4 separate regions of the Homo sapiens genome follow, and all the other regions are linked to region 1. Evidence: fine-mapped expression QTL. A gene starts in region 1. Each other region holds a variant in brackets. All regions are shown on one strand. Distances are from middle to middle. Region 1 holds the start of F5 (coagulation factor V). Region 2 overlaps F5 (coagulation factor V). Region 3 overlaps F5 (coagulation factor V). Region 4 overlaps F5 (coagulation factor V).

What was found. PIP is the estimated chance that this variant, and not a neighbour inherited with it, causes the effect. A credible set is the group of variants that fine-mapping cannot tell apart.
Region 2: its variant is the best candidate, but not a certain one, in a credible set for the expression of F5 in blood mononuclear cells (TOPMed, PIP 0.57).
Region 3: its variant is the best candidate, but not a certain one, in a credible set for the expression of F5 in whole blood (INTERVAL, PIP 0.58).
Region 4: its variant is the best candidate, but not a certain one, in a credible set for the expression of F5 in whole blood (INTERVAL, PIP 0.64).

The regions. Positions count from the first base shown.
Region 1 is chr1:169,583,997-169,588,163 of GRCh38, forward strand. F5 (coagulation factor V) reads right to left here and starts at 2,485. Exons shown (of 25, transcript NM_000130.5): 1 at 2,233-2,485. The coding sequence starts at 2,390. RefSeq lists enhancers at 1,959-2,460, 2,461-2,960.
Region 2 is chr1:169,527,923-169,532,089 of GRCh38, forward strand. It overlaps F5 (coagulation factor V), which reads right to left. Exons shown (of 25, transcript NM_000130.5): 15 at 2,864-3,100; 16 at 1,686-1,896; 17 at 1-172. Among named protein-coding and RNA genes, the nearest start is that of SLC19A2, 44 kb to the left of the region's middle. RefSeq lists an enhancer at 3,684-3,853. The variant T/C (reference allele first, on the strand shown) is at 1,815.
Region 3 is chr1:169,557,604-169,561,770 of GRCh38, forward strand. F5 (coagulation factor V) reads right to left here. Exons shown (of 25, transcript NM_000130.5): 4 at 2,951-3,163; 5 at 1,550-1,693. Among named protein-coding and RNA genes, the nearest start is that of F5, 27 kb to the right of the region's middle. The variant A/C (reference allele first, on the strand shown) is at 2,190.
Region 4 is chr1:169,540,377-169,544,543 of GRCh38, forward strand. F5 (coagulation factor V) reads right to left here. Exons shown (of 25, transcript NM_000130.5): 12 at 3,920-4,132; 13 at 1-2,738. Among named protein-coding and RNA genes, the nearest start is that of F5, 44 kb to the right of the region's middle. The variant T/C (reference allele first, on the strand shown) is at 1,941.

The DNA.
Region 1 (4,167 bases):
CTTAAGAATTCCAGGATTCTATATACTAATGTCCCTAATGTGGAAGTCCATTTTTATTTATTTATTTTTAGTACAATTGAAAAGTTATTGTCCTCCCCTGCCCCAGATCTTTAATACAGAAATGTAGATGATGGTGTAAAATCTTTACTAAAAAATATCAGTCTCTTACGTGGAGTAATTTCAACAGAGAGATGTTTCCTAACATGTTTTTACTATGTATGCTGTGTATTCATACTGAGGTATGTCTATTTTGATCTGAACAATTTCTATTGGAAAATAATCTATCTGATTAAAAAGTTACAGATCATATGAATTCAAACAATGTGTACGACGAGTTTTTCATTTATAAGGATTGTTTAAAGATGATTTGTTCATAATCACAAAATCATATAAAGCTAGAACCCTAGAAGGAAAATGTATGTATATCTTTTCTTCAATATCTCTTTGTATACATGTGAGTGACTAAACAAGTTTTCTAAGGAAATTTTTGAAAGTGTTCACCTTAGACTTGGAGCAAGAATAATAGATACATTTTACCTTTAAAAGGCATTGTCCTGCTAATATTATATGAAATAAGTAGATAGATGTCTGCTTTGTGCTAAAATACACTTTGCCAAAAGATGGAGTTGGCTATGTTGATATTCACCTAGTGAGTATCATAGCTCTAGGGGCAGGACAAGTTAGAACAAGTTCTTAGTTTAAGCAGCCAGATATATGGATTAGATTTTTCATAAGAAAATGCTAGAGAGAAATGATATGATTTAGGGTTAAACAATATGACAGTTTGTCTGGGTTGTGTTTCTATGGTTTTGACTCAACAATTCCTACCAGAGGAACGAATCTCCAGAACTTTGGAAACTTACCCACAGGATGAGGGGACAGAATGACCAGTCATGGTTCCCTGTGTACTCACCATGTGAATCAGACCTTTGCCCTATCTGGTTCTGCCTCCGGTATTTTGCTTGTTATTTTCAACGCTAACTACAGACAAGAGAAAAAACTCCCAAGCATGAACCCAGCATGCTACAAGAAAGCCAACAACCAAGTCTGCATTCTACTCATGAGCAGGCAAGATTAGTGTTAGAAGGACTGTTATTTTCCTTGGGGTTTTAGCTTACGGCAGTTCCCAAAGGGTGTGGGTGTGACCTAGATTATCACTTTGAAGTACGATATTTAAAATGATTATTTTTGAGAAGGAGGGATCTCTTCTTATTATAAGACCAAGATGGTATGTAATACCCTCCAAAATAACCCAGTTACAATGAGAGTTTTAAAAAGGTTAATATTATACACTAAAAGATCTCAAAATATTACATTATTTTTTGGCAGATTACTTTGGTTTTGTAATTGTAAAAGAGGAACACATCTTTCATAATGAAGTGTGATGTAAGGAAAAAAAGTGAGTCACACTAGCAGGTTTACCATTTAAAAAATAACTAACTGGAAATATTGAATAGACTGTATGATTTAGTTAATTTCTGAGAAGTCTTATTTTTAACATTTCAATTAGAAAAAATAGTTTGCAACTCAAGGATAGTATTTTATCTGAATTAAACCTCCTCTCAGTTACATATGCCTTTAAGTAGCCAAGGTAAACCATATCCCAGGACATGATGAACAGAGAGAAAAAAAAATGAAGAGTCACATTCAATAGGATAAATAAGTCAAATATGAAGCAGAAAAAAGGTGAAAGTACAAAAACATACAAGAACTGATGATATTTTGAAAGTCATTTATAAGGCAGCAATAAAATTATATGACAAAAAGCACAAGGTGTTCATTTTTAGTTTTAGAAGATGAAGCTATGTAGACAATGGAATAAATAATATGTAACTAGGAGTCTCATAAAAATACTATACAACTAAAAATCTGGAACAGGAGTTTGCAGGAAGGGCTAATGAGGGAGCAAGTGCCTGGTGCCTTTGAATTAACCAATATATAAGCCAACACAAACATACTAACAAAACTGTATTGAAAATAAACTTGAAAAGAAGGTAGCATCTAACCAATCAAATAGGGTGCTTTCTAAACCCTCAGAATGATAAACTACATTGTTGGATGCAAAATTAGCATTTGCCCAGTTTATTTAATTCAGTATACTCTCCTATTAGTTATATTTACTTACCTGAAGTTAAAAAAAAAAAAAGCCATGACATTGCAAAGGGAATGTTCTCTAAAAGAAATAGATTTTCCTCTCTAGAGAAGCCCACCCGGACTCCACACCTGAGTTACCTTGAGTTTGTGGGCTCAGGTCGGTAGCTCCAACTGATGCCCTGAGCAGCCACGTAGAACTGCCTTAGCTGTGCCGCTTCTGTCCCTTGGCTCCCCCAGCCTACCCAGCTGGTGCCCAAGACCACCAGGACCCAGAGGCGTGGGCAGCCTGGGAACATGCTTCCTTTCCTGCTCCCGCTGGCTGCCACCACCCCAGGACCTGGGCAGCGCTTGCCGAGCTGCTAACCACACTCCGGGCTGTCCCAGCTGCAATGAGCTCTAGAGGCTGTGGGTGGCAGCGTCCTCCTCCCCTGCAGTTCTTGCAAACGGCAGCAGCAGCCTCTGGCTCTCACTCCCTCCGCTTTTTCTGGGGCTTTTCCTGGCAGGGGTTTGGTGAGATCACAGCTCCCAGTGACCAGAGGTATTAGGGAGAGCAACCAAACTAGTGACTGTTTTACTGCAGGTGAAGAAGGGGCAGAGATCAGAGGCTCTAGCAGGCGGGACAATGCCCAGGGATTCATGAGCCGGACAAAGCTGTATCCCTCCATTTCCACCTGCCAACACCACGGAAGCAGTCGTCCGTTACCACTGACCTGAGGCCTGCCTGGGTCCAAGCTCACACTTGGAGAACCTTCTGTGCAGTGCAGTGGCACCCAACCACCTTAAGCAGATGGCTCCCCTTTTAATCTGAGGAAAAGAGTATTGTGCCCTGTTACTGGGCACTGAAACACTATTTTCAAGTGGTGAAGAAGCAGGGAACAAACACATGGACAAGGCCTACTGCTCTGAATCGCCTTCCTGGCCTCTATCAAGGCACAGTTCTGCCTTGATAAGGGCCTGTCGCCAGCTAAGCTGCAGCATAGCAGCGGGCTTGAAGAGCTTGGCTGAAAAAAATCAGTTGTCCAGATTTCAGTTTCACTTACTAGCTGTGTTGTCTTGGGCAAGTTACTGTACCTCTCTGTTCAGTTTTGACATCTGTGAAATAAGGATGACAATAATAATTTTTCCTGATAGGGTATGTTGGGAGGATAAAATGCTACTGTAAACTATAGTTCCAGCACTTAACACACAGAGGCTAGGCGCAGTGGCTCACGCCTGTAATCCCAGTACTTTGGGAGGCCAAGGCGGGTGAATCACCTGAGGTCAGGAGTTCAAGACCAGCCTGGCCAACATGGTGAAACCCTTCTCTACTAAAAATATAAAAAATTAGCCGGGCGTTGTGGTGGACACCTGTAATCCCACCTACTCGAGAGATTGAGGCAAGAGAATTGCTTGAACCTGGAAGGTGGAGTTTGCAGTGAGCTGATATCATGCCATTTTACTCCAGCCTGGGCAACGAGAGCAAAACTCCATCAAAAAAAAAAAAGAAAGAAAGAAAAAGAAAGAAAGAGAAAAAGAGAGAAAGAAGGAATCACAAATTTATTATTATGATCATATTTTCCTGTCTCCAGGACCCCTTGTATTCTTGTTTTTCTTGAAGGATCTGACTGTTTCACAGCACCTTAAATCTTACTTTGCTATTGATAGAGAATCTGCGAATTATATTGTCTGAGGCATCATAATGACTTGTCCTGGGTTCCCTGTATCTGCATGGCTCCAGGTTTCTGTCTTATGCTTTATGCATTCAGTACATTCAATAAATTGTAATCTGGCACCTCACATGAGGTCTCTGTTAATGATATCAGGCTCATCAACAGCCTCTTCCTCCCTCCCCACTCCCCCCAATATTCTGTCTTTTCTCCTGTGCTGATATTATTGCACCAACTTAGAATGCCCATTTTCTTCCTCTTTGCTGGGCCATTCTTTACAGTCCAGAGTTCTGCCTATCTCCCAGATTCTGGGCTCAAATTGGCTTTTCCATTTTATGAACTATTACAACACTATTCAAATTATATAATCATGTTAATTACCTTTTGTTATTCCATGCAGGTATCTATTGTCTCCCTAACTGAACAG
Region 2 (4,167 bases), 56 kb before region 1:
AGGGGCCAGACCCCTAACTGGTGCTGTTTATTGCCATTTTCCAGCAAGGTCTGGCCGTGAAAGTGAACCACGTGAATGTCTTGGGAGCCGCCTATGTTCAGCAGGTGTAACCTCACCCACTCTTGCTCATACATTTTCAGGCCAGGCAAGCTGTAGATCATCCCATTAATGGCTGAAAGGACAAAGAGTTGAAATCAATTAAAAATCTGTTGACACAGAGAGGGCGAGTGGTAAGGAAATATGGGGCAACCCACTCAACACCCATGTTCCTCATGATTCTGCATTCCCAGGCCTACCTAGCCATGGAAAGGGCCCTCTTGTATGTCACATTAGTGAGAGGCTAAAGCAGAACCACTAGTCCTTCTCATATCATTCACACCAGCCTACAGCAGAAGGCAGGGGGAACTCCCTTTCCAAGCAGTTTATCACTCTTTTCCTCAGCTTTTACAGTTCCGTGCTTTACCCGTGTATACTTTCCATTAACAGTCTTAATTTTCCTTAACTACAAAAGATAAATACAAATATGGGCAGACAAAGTAAACTCCAGGGATTAGAGTCAGCAAGGAGATATGCAGCATGTCACCTTAAGGCCTTCTAAATTCAGAGAAAGTTTCAGGCAAATTAGGAAGTCTAGGAGTTTATAAAATTAGGAGTTTATCGTTGGTGTATCCAGCAACCATAGCAAGTCATGTTTATTCTCTTATTGGTATGACAACTCCTCTGCCCACTTCTCAGATTAGATAACTAGGGTTCTCAGGCTTTATCTACTCTCCCCACAGTAAAATACGCGGATTTTTTAAAAAGTTCCTGAGAAACTTGATCACCTTAAAAATGTAACACAAAACTGTAAAGATAAAGTTTAGTGTTACCAAACGTTTAACTGAAACCAAAGTGAAGGAAGTGCTTTGTTTCCTCCTTCTTAAGTTAGAGGAACTGCTGTGAAATTTCAGAAACCAGGCAGGTGAATTTTTGGAGAGGGACGGGTTGAGATCATTTGGGCATCCTTCAAATTATATCAGGCGTGAGAACACCTATCTACATATTCATAACACAAGCTCGTACCTTTCTCTTCTCAGTTTCTGTTTCAGTTACTAGCTTACAGGGCAAATTTTCCTTGTGAATTTCCAAATAGGCACACTTTTCCCAGTGTGACCACCCAAATGCTCTCTTGCCACTATTCTCCTATTACCTGGGTACCTAGTTTCTTATCTCATTTTGTTCTCATATGCTTTGGGTGCCACCTGGTAGCTGCTGAGAGCTAAAACTGTTAGCGTCATTCTTATTTTAGAAAAGACACACAGGTGATCATTTCTTTTATATAAACACTTGTGCCTTTAGAGATCCAGAAACAAGCTTATTAACTTTAAATTGCAGAACAATGTTAATTCCTTTTCAATGTATGTTACCAGCTGAAGCACACTGGCTTTTTGTTGTTGTGGTTTTCTGTTGGTTTGTTTTGCAGCAGCTTCTCTGTGCTATCTTTCAGACTTTCTCTTTTTGCCTCACCCACAGTGTCACCTGCCAGATTACATCAGCCCTCTGGAATGTTAAGGAACCGGTTTTAGTTGTAGCTCTGGGTGTCTCAGAAGCATCTCATGTCTAATCTTGTGAATATCTAAGGGCAGAAATCACTGTGACCCAGTGTGATTTAATTAGGAGATTAGATCAAAGTCTGAGGAAAATACCGTGAAACTCATGGGATTTTTTCATTTCTGAGGATGTGAGTCTCCAAGAACTTCGGGACTTCTTTTCATAGTACCAGCTCTTCTTTTCATCAAAGGTCATAAATAGTAAGACAAATTCTCTCATGTCCA[T/C]AGGCATGTTGCTGTCCTTATGTAGTATTCCTTTTTGGCAGATTAGGAGGGGACCTATCAAGCCTGAGTGAATATCTTTTTCCTGGAAAAACAGAGTAAATTGTATTGCCTCTTTCTCAGGAATTTCCTTGCTCTTCTGATAATCACTCATCATATAGAAAAGGAAACTTTCTGATAGGCTCTGAATTTGAAGATGAAGATTATAAATGAATGGCATAATAAGCCTGGATATTTATCACCTAATTCTGTTGTATTCATAATCCTCCTTCCTCTGATTGATCTTTATCCCAGTAACAATGATGATAATAATAAATTGATAATATAAGGGATACTATTTATTGAGAATCTATTACTATATTAAATGATTTGCCTGCAATCTCCCATTTAATCCTGACAACTATCTTATATGGTAAATATAAATTCATTCATTGAACAAATATTTACCAAGTGCTTACCATGCACTATGTACTGTTATCTCATTTTTAACTTCTGATACCAGGCTAAGAGAGGTCAAGGAATTTCCTAGGATTATGCATTGACAGGGTAAAAATTTAAATCTGAGTCTGTGCTCTTTCCACTATGCCTGAAATGGAGGAGTTGTTTCTCTTTTTAATTGACAGATAAAATTGTATGCATATACTGTGTATGACATATTGTTTTGAAGTATATATACATTGCAGAATGTCAGATAAAGGAGTCTTGACTTTGCAGTTCTTTTCATAAAGAAAGAGCAGAACATAGCTAATACTTGTTCAAGAAAATTTCAAATAAATGCCATCTTCTGTAAATGTAGGCATTCTAATTCATGGCCAATCATTCAAGTAATCTTTCCTCCTCTCCACTGAATAAATGTTTCTCTCTCTGTCATCTGAAGAGCTGCATGGAGAGTCCCTGGTTATGATAAATGCAGACTGTTAACCACACCCTTATGCATTCCTCATGAAAAGCAAGACAGACATTTGACAAGAAATAACCCCGACTCTTCCATTTGGTGGACTTCAGATTACGAGGTTAGGGGAATGAGAAAAACTTTCAATGAAAGTACCTACTGGGTTCACAGCTGAGTAGTAGGCCCAAGCCCGACAGGCAGAGCCAGGACTTTCTGGCCCTGATCGCTCAGTGGCATGCCATACGTAGGTATAACTGCTATTTGGCTGAACAGCATTATCTTCCTTAAACCATTCAGGAGAGTCATCTTCATAAGTCTTTCCCTCTGATGATTTTTCATAGGAAAGTCCATGGGCATGTAGAGAATACGGTCTGGATGCTAAATTTTTAAAACGAACCTAGGAAAAGGAATGATCCACAAATGTACTTAAGCTTAACAAAAATCTAAACCACAAAAATGTCAGCATTATAAGTCAAAATGGCTGGTTATAAAATCGGAGCTAAGATATAAGGTACAAAATAACTTATGTATATTATTTCATTTAATTTTCATAACCATCCTGTGAGATATGGCCCAAGTAGTTTTCTCCAGAAATACCAAAAGATATTTGTTCTTAGGCTCAAGGCTAAAGTACTGACATTATCTACTAATGAAATGAGAGTGATAGGTAGTGGAGATGTGAAGATGAAAGAAGCTTGATTCTTGTTCATAAGAAGCTTTTAAGCTCCTGCTGAAACAGACATGCACATGGGCATCCACACTACAAATCTGGAGACAACAGGTGCTATATACAAAGTCTAAGTGGGTTCAGATGACAATGCCCTGGAGGAACAATTTGGTTGAATATTTAGGAGTGGTTGGAAGAATTAAGGTAAGTTTCTTAGAGGAAATGGAATTGGCCATCATAGAATGAACAGGAGCTAGAAAGACATTTCAGACTCTCAGAAGGGCAGAAGGATGCCTGTGAGCAGGGGAGTAAAGGAAGAGTTTGGGGAATAGCAAGGATCTCGGTGGAACTGGGCTGTGAAATGCACAGGGACAGGTGGAACCTGGTGAGAAATGAGGCTAGAAAAGGAGCAGGTTGGGGCCAGATGGTAAAGGACTTAAATGCCATATGAGAAGTCTTCACACCCCAGCAGTCAGACCCATGAAGCTCCTCCCAGCCCTTCTATAACTTCTAGTGATTAAAGACTCCCTAATTGTCTGTTCCTTATTTTATTCTACAAAGCCAGCATCACCCTAATAACAAAACCTGGCAAAGACACAATGAATAATGAAAACTACCGGCCAATATCTCTGATGTACATAGACACAAAAATCTTCAACAAAATATTGGCAAACCAAATCCAGCAGCAAATTAAAAATTAATTCATCACAATCACATAGGCTTCATTCCTAGGATGCAAAGTGGCTCCACATATGCAAATCAATAAATGTGATTCACCACATAAACCGCATTAAAAA
Region 3 (4,167 bases), 26 kb before region 1:
ACAGTCACTGGGAAAATGCTCATTTGCTCTGTGGGGAGACTCCATCCTTGGCTTTTAGGTTTCTGTTTTACATCTCAGATACATAATCACTAGATACTAGATAATGGGCCTGAGAATCAGTTCCTTACCCACACAAAGGCTTGTTTTTTTTAGGAGACCATTGCAACAAAGCCAGGATTCCTTGCATCACTAGGAGGCTTTGGTGGAAGCGTTTATCCATGCCAAAGAAATGCTTATATTGAGTTCAGCAATTAACATATCTGTGTTAGCATTTATCATATGTATTCAATTTATTCTGCTTTATAAGGCAGAGGGTTTTTACAAATGTTTACTATTCTTAGTTTCTACTGATGGTCTTTCCCTACCTTGTCCCATTTACCCCCAATTATTCTTTTGGGAACTATAAATTCGTAAACTCTAAGCTCAGATCAATTTATTTTTATTTTTGTGCATATGGTTTTGCTTTTCTTGGCATCCATATACTTATACAGATTGTTCACTCTGCCAGGAAATAGATGTTAGGATAAATGGTTAGTCCACTTTTGTAAGTAAGCACATTGAGACAACTAATTTATCCAGGGCCACAGAAGGTAGTCTGATAATCTGAAGTCTGAACTCAGATTATCTAAGGTCGAGGTCAGTTAACTAAGCCCCAGTTTTTACAAGCTCCTAGTATTGGAACTTGGGATCAACATTGAGAGTCATATGAGTATATTTTCAGAAAACCAAGTGGAAAATGTAGTCAAATGAAATAGAATACAATTTAAAAACACTACCCAGATCTCAACTCTTAACAATATTTGTGTTTTAGTAAGTGAAGCTATTTGTGATTTTCAGATGGCATTAGAGAATAACCTCTAAGAAGTTTAGTGTTTTGAAATATGGTTTATTTAGTAAAGTGGCATTTTAATTTTTTAATGTTTTTCCCTCAGGCTAGTATCATATACCCTGGATCTTTAGTTGTAGGTCAGTTCTACCAGAGAGAAATAGAAGAGATGTGGTCTAAGTGGGAATTAGTTATTTTTTCTCTTAACGATTGCTATGATTTTGCCTTCTCATAAGTGCCCAAATGCAAATGGAAAGAGAAAATATTCTAGATGCCACTGAATATTACTCTTCTGTCACCTTTTGAAATGCTGGTTTTTTTTGTGTGTTGAGGATTACTCCTAATCTGTTCATCTTTACTGCAATCTTCCTGCTGATCCTTCCTGCTAGGGCTTGTCCTTGAAGAAGCCATGGTCATCATATAGAGGAACTGCAGAACTCGGAGAGAGTGGCTGAGCTGATACCTTAAGGTCTTATTCAAAGTACAGGCCAAGGTGAAACCTACTCAGGTCACTATACCTAACAAGGCTGCACATTTCTTCTCTAGCTTCTAATTTGTCTCTTCTATTTCCTGTTTAAAAAAAAAAAGAGAAAATATTTCCTTCTTGATAGGGAGTTGCAAAACAGTGAGTATGGTCAACTTCTCTAGTGCTTTGAAGAAAACAGGACCGAAAAATTACTAATGATTTTACTGTTGTTTAATGGTACACAGCCCTCGTGTTACCTGGCATTGTCCCATTCACATATCCATTGACTGTGTACATTAGGGATGATGACTGGCTCCAGCTCTTGCTTTCATCAAACACAGCAAATAGTAGCACGATTTGCTTGTCAAACGTCTTCTGTGTCCCACCCTCAGTTAGGGTCCCTATGAAAGGAAAGACATGTTTTCAGTAGCACTGCAGATAGAAGACGCTCATTAGCTTTCCTGGATAGCAAAGAGTTTAGGGCAAGCAATCAACCATAATGATTTCAACTTGAAGAAATTCTTATTTTTTAAAATAGCATATTTATCAAGTAATAATGGTTCTAGGGTTATTTAAAATCTGGTGCCACACTGTCTTCTTTGATACCTTCTTGCTTTGGGGAACAGGCTTTATTTCATCCAGCTTGGGAAGAAAACATTTGGTGACTCTCAAGACTCTGTACAAGTATCCATTTCCCCCAGTCTCAATAGAAGAGTATATAGATACGTTAGCTCAGTTGGTAAAAGCATCATGCCCCAAGTTTAATGCTGTCATCTTATTTGTATATGAAAGGGGGCATTAGATAATTGGGTGGAAGTATCAGCATTAATCCATTCTCACTATGAGAAAAACATGCTGCTGATGGTAAAATGCAAGAAGAGTCTTTTGTAAGTTTTA[A/C]GGTTTTTTTCAGTACCATCACAGTATCTTATATATACCAGGAAATGGAAAAAAAGTCTTTGTATAATGAGTAAATACATTGGGCATGTATGTAGGTATGGCCTGAGCGTGTATGTATAGGCAGATGGTGAGTCCATCACGTTATTTCCCATGCTGTGGCTCACTGTGGTTGTTTGTTTTAATGAAAGATGGGCTGGATTCTCATGGGATAAAATGAAAATCCAAGCTTGCTCCTAAGAAGCCCAGCCAATAAAAGTTCTTGTAAAGTCACTTGAGTGTGTTTGAAACCTACCACCCAAAGTTTTCAACTTGTTTGTAAGAAAGGAAGCTGGCATTTCACGTGTTTATAGAGCAAATTACCAGCCCAAACCTCAGATATGTCAAACATGTTAGCCAAAGTTCTTTCCAAGAGCTCTTTCAGCAGAGTATAGGCTACTGTATACTTTCTAAAAGACTTTGGCCTTGAGGTAAATGTTACAGATCATACAAGCATGACATCAGAACATACTCTCAAACAGGAATTTGCCTGGGAGAACCTTAAGGACTGAGATGAAGGAGGAATGAGAAGAAACAGAGGTGGATCCACACCCTGAAATAGCAGGTGTTTTTTTCTCTTGTCAAACAATGATCTGGTCTCCGTGCCGTCTTCCTCTGCTTGATGTACAAGAAGTTACCAAGATGCTCCCAAGCTTTGTCCCATGACAGAACTCCTGACCATTCCAACATTTAGTTGTTGAATCTTTTGGTGGGGGTGTTCTTACCTTTTTTACAGATAAGCAGGGGCCCAATCAGCCCCGAGTTGAAATCCTCGATCAGATTTTCATGGGAGTAATAGATGTGTGTGAGGCATGGAGGGTCATCATGGGTGGGTCCACTGTCCTCACTGATACTCCATTCATAGGTGTATTCTCGGCCTGGAGCCACAGCGTCGTCCATCTTCTCCGCAGGGAATGTGTGGTCAAGGTAAGAAGCACCTGGAGGAGTAACAGCCATCAAGACATGTGGGCAGTTTCTGAGGATTGCGTTTTCACCACTCTCAAATCTGGGGATAGCTAAGATGAGTTCTCTGGAGATGCATATGTCCTTCAATAGTGAACTTTTATTATTTGGAAAGATTCACATATGCCCATTTCTATGCTCATGTACTTACAAAGGCTTTGATAACATGGTGATCTTAAGAATAACAAATGTTATTTGTAAATTAAAGTTTAGCAAGTTAATTTTCCAGGGTACCTGAACAATTATTATTTAAATATAATCAGAGAATTGAATCGCCTTTGATTAGTAAACCATCTCAGAATATAAGAATGGGTGATATCTTCTTTGTGGTGTTTAATAAGACATACTTAGCCTATTAACATGAGATGGGAGGATAGTCAGAGCTGTTTATGTATTATTTTGTTTTGCTATTTCAGATCTTCTTTCCAACTGCTGTGATCCTCAGCTTTGTTTTATCTCTTTATTTCATCTTAGCCATCTGATTATCTCAATTTTTTCCCCCGAGCCACAGCGTCTAACTCCCCTATGCAGGCTGGTTGTCTGTATGAATATGAAATGTGTCCATCCCCTGAAACTTAGATGTCTTACTTTGTACTTTGTGCACCCAAAGACACATCATTAACACCTCCATGTATATTGGACTTTCCCTACTGATAGGAGAGGGAGAGGATGAAGAAATTGGTCTTCTTTATTGAAGAGAAGGAACTGAGATACTCAATATTAAAAGAAGTGTAGAGGGTTGGGTGAGGTTTTCAATAATAAAATGGAGCAAGTGAGGTCAGGAAGGGGAGAGGTGAGTGCCATAGAGAGCCAAGTGGAATGAACAGTTTCCTCTGCCTGAGGAATTCCTCATTTAATTAGGTGAAAGATTCCCTATCATCAGCTGGTGACAGAATTTCTCTTTGGGATGCAGTTATTTTTGTTTGGTACAATAACTTGATAAATTCTTTACGAGAAGAAGGTGAGAACATCAGTGTGG
Region 4 (4,167 bases), 44 kb before region 1:
GTACCATGCTGCAATGTTGTCAGGATCTCTGGAGGAGTTGATGTTTGTCCTAACATCAGTTTTGTAGGGGTCATCATAGGGCACATAATCAATTTCAGCATAGTCATCTTCACTGCTCTGGACCTCTTCCTTTGGAATGATCTCAATGTAATCTGTACCATCTTTACTGAGGCCCACTATAACCAGTGGATTAAATTCCTTTGATAGAAAAGTATCATTGAGAGTAGGAGATGAAGGAGATGGCATCTGACCAAGGTCTGGATAAGGAAAAGACTCATTAAATTCTTGAAGAAGCAATGACTGACTAGATTCAGAAGGGTAGAATATCTGATCAAGGTCTGGAGGAGGTGATATCTGGCTGAGATCCGGGAGAAGGGTGGTGTCACTGATGTCTGGAGAGAGAGTCACCTGGCTGAGGTCTGGGGAAAGGGACATCTGACCAAAGTTTGGGGAAAGATCTGTCTCACCAAGGTCTGGAGAAAGTGTCATCTGGTCGAGGTCTGGGGTAAGGGGAATTTGACTGAGATCTGCAAAGAGGGGCATCTCACTGAGGTCTGGGGAAAGGTTTGTCTGACTGAGTTCTGGAGAGAGGTTTGTCTGGCTGAGGTCTAGAGAAAGGGTTGTATGGCTGGGGTCTGGAGAAAGGGGCATCTGACCGAGGGCTGGGGAAAGGTTTGTTTGACTGAGTTCTGGAGAGAGGTTTGTCTGGCTGAAGTCTAGAGAAAGGGTTGTATGGCTGAGGTCTGGAGAAATGGGCATCTGACCGAGGGCTGGGGAAAGGTTTGTCTGACTGAGTTCTGGAGAGAGAGTCATATGGCTGAGTTCTGGAGAGAGGTTTGTCTGGCTGAAGTCTAGAGAAAGGGTTGTATGGCTGAGGTCTGGAGAAAGGGGCATCTGACCGAGGGCTGGAGAAAGGTTTGTCTGACTGAGTTCTGGAGAGAGGTTTGTCTGGCTGAGGTCTAAAGAAAGGGTTGTATGGCTGAGGTCTGGAGAAAGGGTTGTATGGCTGAGGTCTGGAGAAATGGGCATCTGACCGAGGGCTGGGGAAAGGTTTCTCTGAATGAGTTCTGGAGAGAGAGTCGTGTGGCTGAGGTCTGGAGAGAGGTTTGTCTGGCTGAGTTCTGGAGAGAGGGTCACCTGGCTGAGGTCTGGAGAGATGACTGTCTGCCAGACTTCATGTTCTGAGGAAGGGGACATTTGACTTATATCTGTGGGGAAGGACTTGTGACTTCGGTCATACTCAAGCATTTCACTGAGCTCTGGAGAAGAGGATCTGTGACTGGGGTCTGAAGTAGAGTGCATTTGATCAGGGTCTTGAATGGGGAATGTTTGATAGTGTTCCTCTGGGGGCACTGTCTGATAAAGACCTGGAGGACAGCTTGCCTGACCAGTGTCATTTGAGGAATTCTGATTATGGTCAGGAAGTGAGGCTATCCAGCCAAAATCCATAGAGGGCAATGTCTGATTGAGGTCTGTGGGAAGAGATGTTTCATTGGATTTATGAAGCACCAACGAATGCTTAAGTCTTCTTTCTGAAAATGTGTTGTAGGCTTCACTTCTTAGAGGGTGAAAGGTCCTCGGAGATAAAGGAGCATGGTGTGTGTGCTTCTCTTTTTTCTTTTTTCGTGTCTTAATGAGAAACTGGCTTTTCTTCAGTCTACTCTTTCCTCCATCCTGTCTTACTTGTAGAGATTTATGTCTAACTCTAGGAAACTTTGGGTGGCCACTCTGCTTTCCAGGCTTGTTGGCAAGAGGGGTGCTTTCTCCCCAAGCACGTGAGGCATTCTGGGGGCTGATCAGCCAATTGTTAACAGCTGTGTCTTCATCAGTATCTTGGATTATTTCATAGCTACCTTTCTCAGAAGCCAAATGCCATCTCCCAACCAAAATCTTAGATGAGTTACTTTGTTTTAAGAGTAACAGATCACTAGGAGGGTCCT[T/C]CCAGGGCCTCATTCTGGAAGGAGAACCAGTGTCTTGGCTAGGAAGGTCCTCCCAGGGCCTCATTCCGGAAGGAGAACCAGTGTCTTGGCTTAGGTGTCTCCCAACTTTATGTGCTAGTAATTTCATCCAGGAGAACCTGTGCTTTGCTGCTTGATCTCTTTCTACCTTGGGTCCCTTATGCTTAGCATGTTCTTGACTTTTGAATTCTCCAGCACCAAGTGAAAGTAGACGTATCCCTGTGACATCTGGCTGTAGAGGATCCTCTATAGGGTCTTCAGAATATGGGCTGGAATGCTCTGCTGTGGAAGAATTGAGAACTGAGTTCTTGCCAATGAGGTGTCTCAGTGGGGAACCAGCTGTGGTGGCTTGTTGGTGAGAAGGGGCTTTCTGAGGTTCTGCAAGGTTATTGACAGTGAACTTACTAATATTACTTGGGGAAGAATAATTTGAACCAACAATTATATCTGTGTTTGAAGAAACGAATTCAGTGCCATTCTCCAGAGCTAGGGCAGTAAGATTGAACTCTTCTTCTTCCTGATTCAATGATGAGTTTCGGAATGACCTGATTCCTAATGCTGCAGCCAGTCTGTTCTGGTAATCATAGTCAGCATCACTCTCTTCATCTTCAGGTTCTAAACGATCATGCATTTTCCGTGTAGCCATGACTGTAGATTCTGGAGGTTCAAAAATCTCATATGAGTCTTCATCATCATCTGGGATACATTTAACATCCCTGAATTTCAGCCTCAGCTTTTTGCTTCTTGGACTAGAATTCATGGAAGTTAACATCCAAGTTCCTACAGAAGAGAGACAGACAGAAGAGAGATCTGGAAGTCTGGGAAAAGACATGAAAACACAATAATCCATTGTGGCAGGTAATTTCTAATAAACTTTCGTCAGGAATATTCAAGTATGGGCTGTGGACCACTGCTTGTCTGTGACCTATTGATTACTGGGTCAAAATAACACAAGGAGAGAAAAATGAGAATGAAATATTTAGTAAACTTTTGTTTTTCTAAAGCAATTTGACATTGCTGTGACTCTAAGCACATGACCAGTGCGTTCATCTCGCTTAACAGAATAAAAAACAAAAGTGTTGCTTAGTGGAGATTAGAGGGGAAAAAAGGTCTTTCAGCACAGATAGTTGCTCACTATTTTAAAATATATTAAGAAAGGGATGAATCAAGAATAAAATGGACTTTTAATATCATAAATATCCTAACAGCACATCTTGTCTTAGAATTAAAGGGATGGTGATGAGCTCTATCCCCACAAATAAGAGACATTTAGATGTTTCTAAGTAATAATTCACGAGGACAATTTTGAATCTCTGAAATGGCATGCATTGCTGGAACATCAAAGATTTCTTGGTGAGTCTCCAATAGTTACCATTGTTGGTGTCTACTGAGTGCTAGGCACTTGGCGCATATTACTATTTTAATGGTCAAAGTAACTCTGTGAGATGTGATTACACTGTTTTCCAGATAAATGACTTGTGGCTCAGTGTGGCCAAGTAACTTGTGTAAGGTTACACAGCAATCGATTGGCAGATCAGGACTTGCATTCCAGTCTGACAAACTCCAAAGCTGTTGCTGAAGCAGCCTTTAAGGCACTGTACCTGATGATTGAAGATGACTGTTGCAAAAAACCGAATAGGGCATTTTGATAAAAGAAATGCTCTTTTGTGGCCAAAATATTTATGCTTCTTCCTCAGAGTTATGCCTTATTTTTCTGCTGTTGTATATTTTTACTTCCTACTTTGCCCAGAGAAGGAAAAATATAACCCACACTAAAGAACTGGATCCATTTAAGTCATTAATTTCTCAAAGAGAAATCATGAGAAACATTGAAAGAAAAGCCTGCAGGGGGTCAGGGAGATACATAGAGGAGCACTGGTAGCCTGGAGAGTTGCAGCAGACCTTTATAGACCAGAAATTCAAAGCAAGCTTCCTCTGTGAGTGTCCAGACTCTTACTCACCAACATTATCCATTGTGACCGTCACAGATTCTCCACGCATGGGGAAGAGGGTCAAGGTGTCCTCATGCCTCTTTCCATAGATGAATGAGTGCCCAGTGAAGTGGATGGTCAAAATTTCATTCTGGGTCCCCACACTACAGAAGTGCCACTGGACAGTGTCATCAAAGCAGAATCCAAGAGTAGTTATGCTCTCAGGCACATAGCCATTGATAGCTGAAAGTGTAAAATCTGTTAAAATTCCAAGTCTA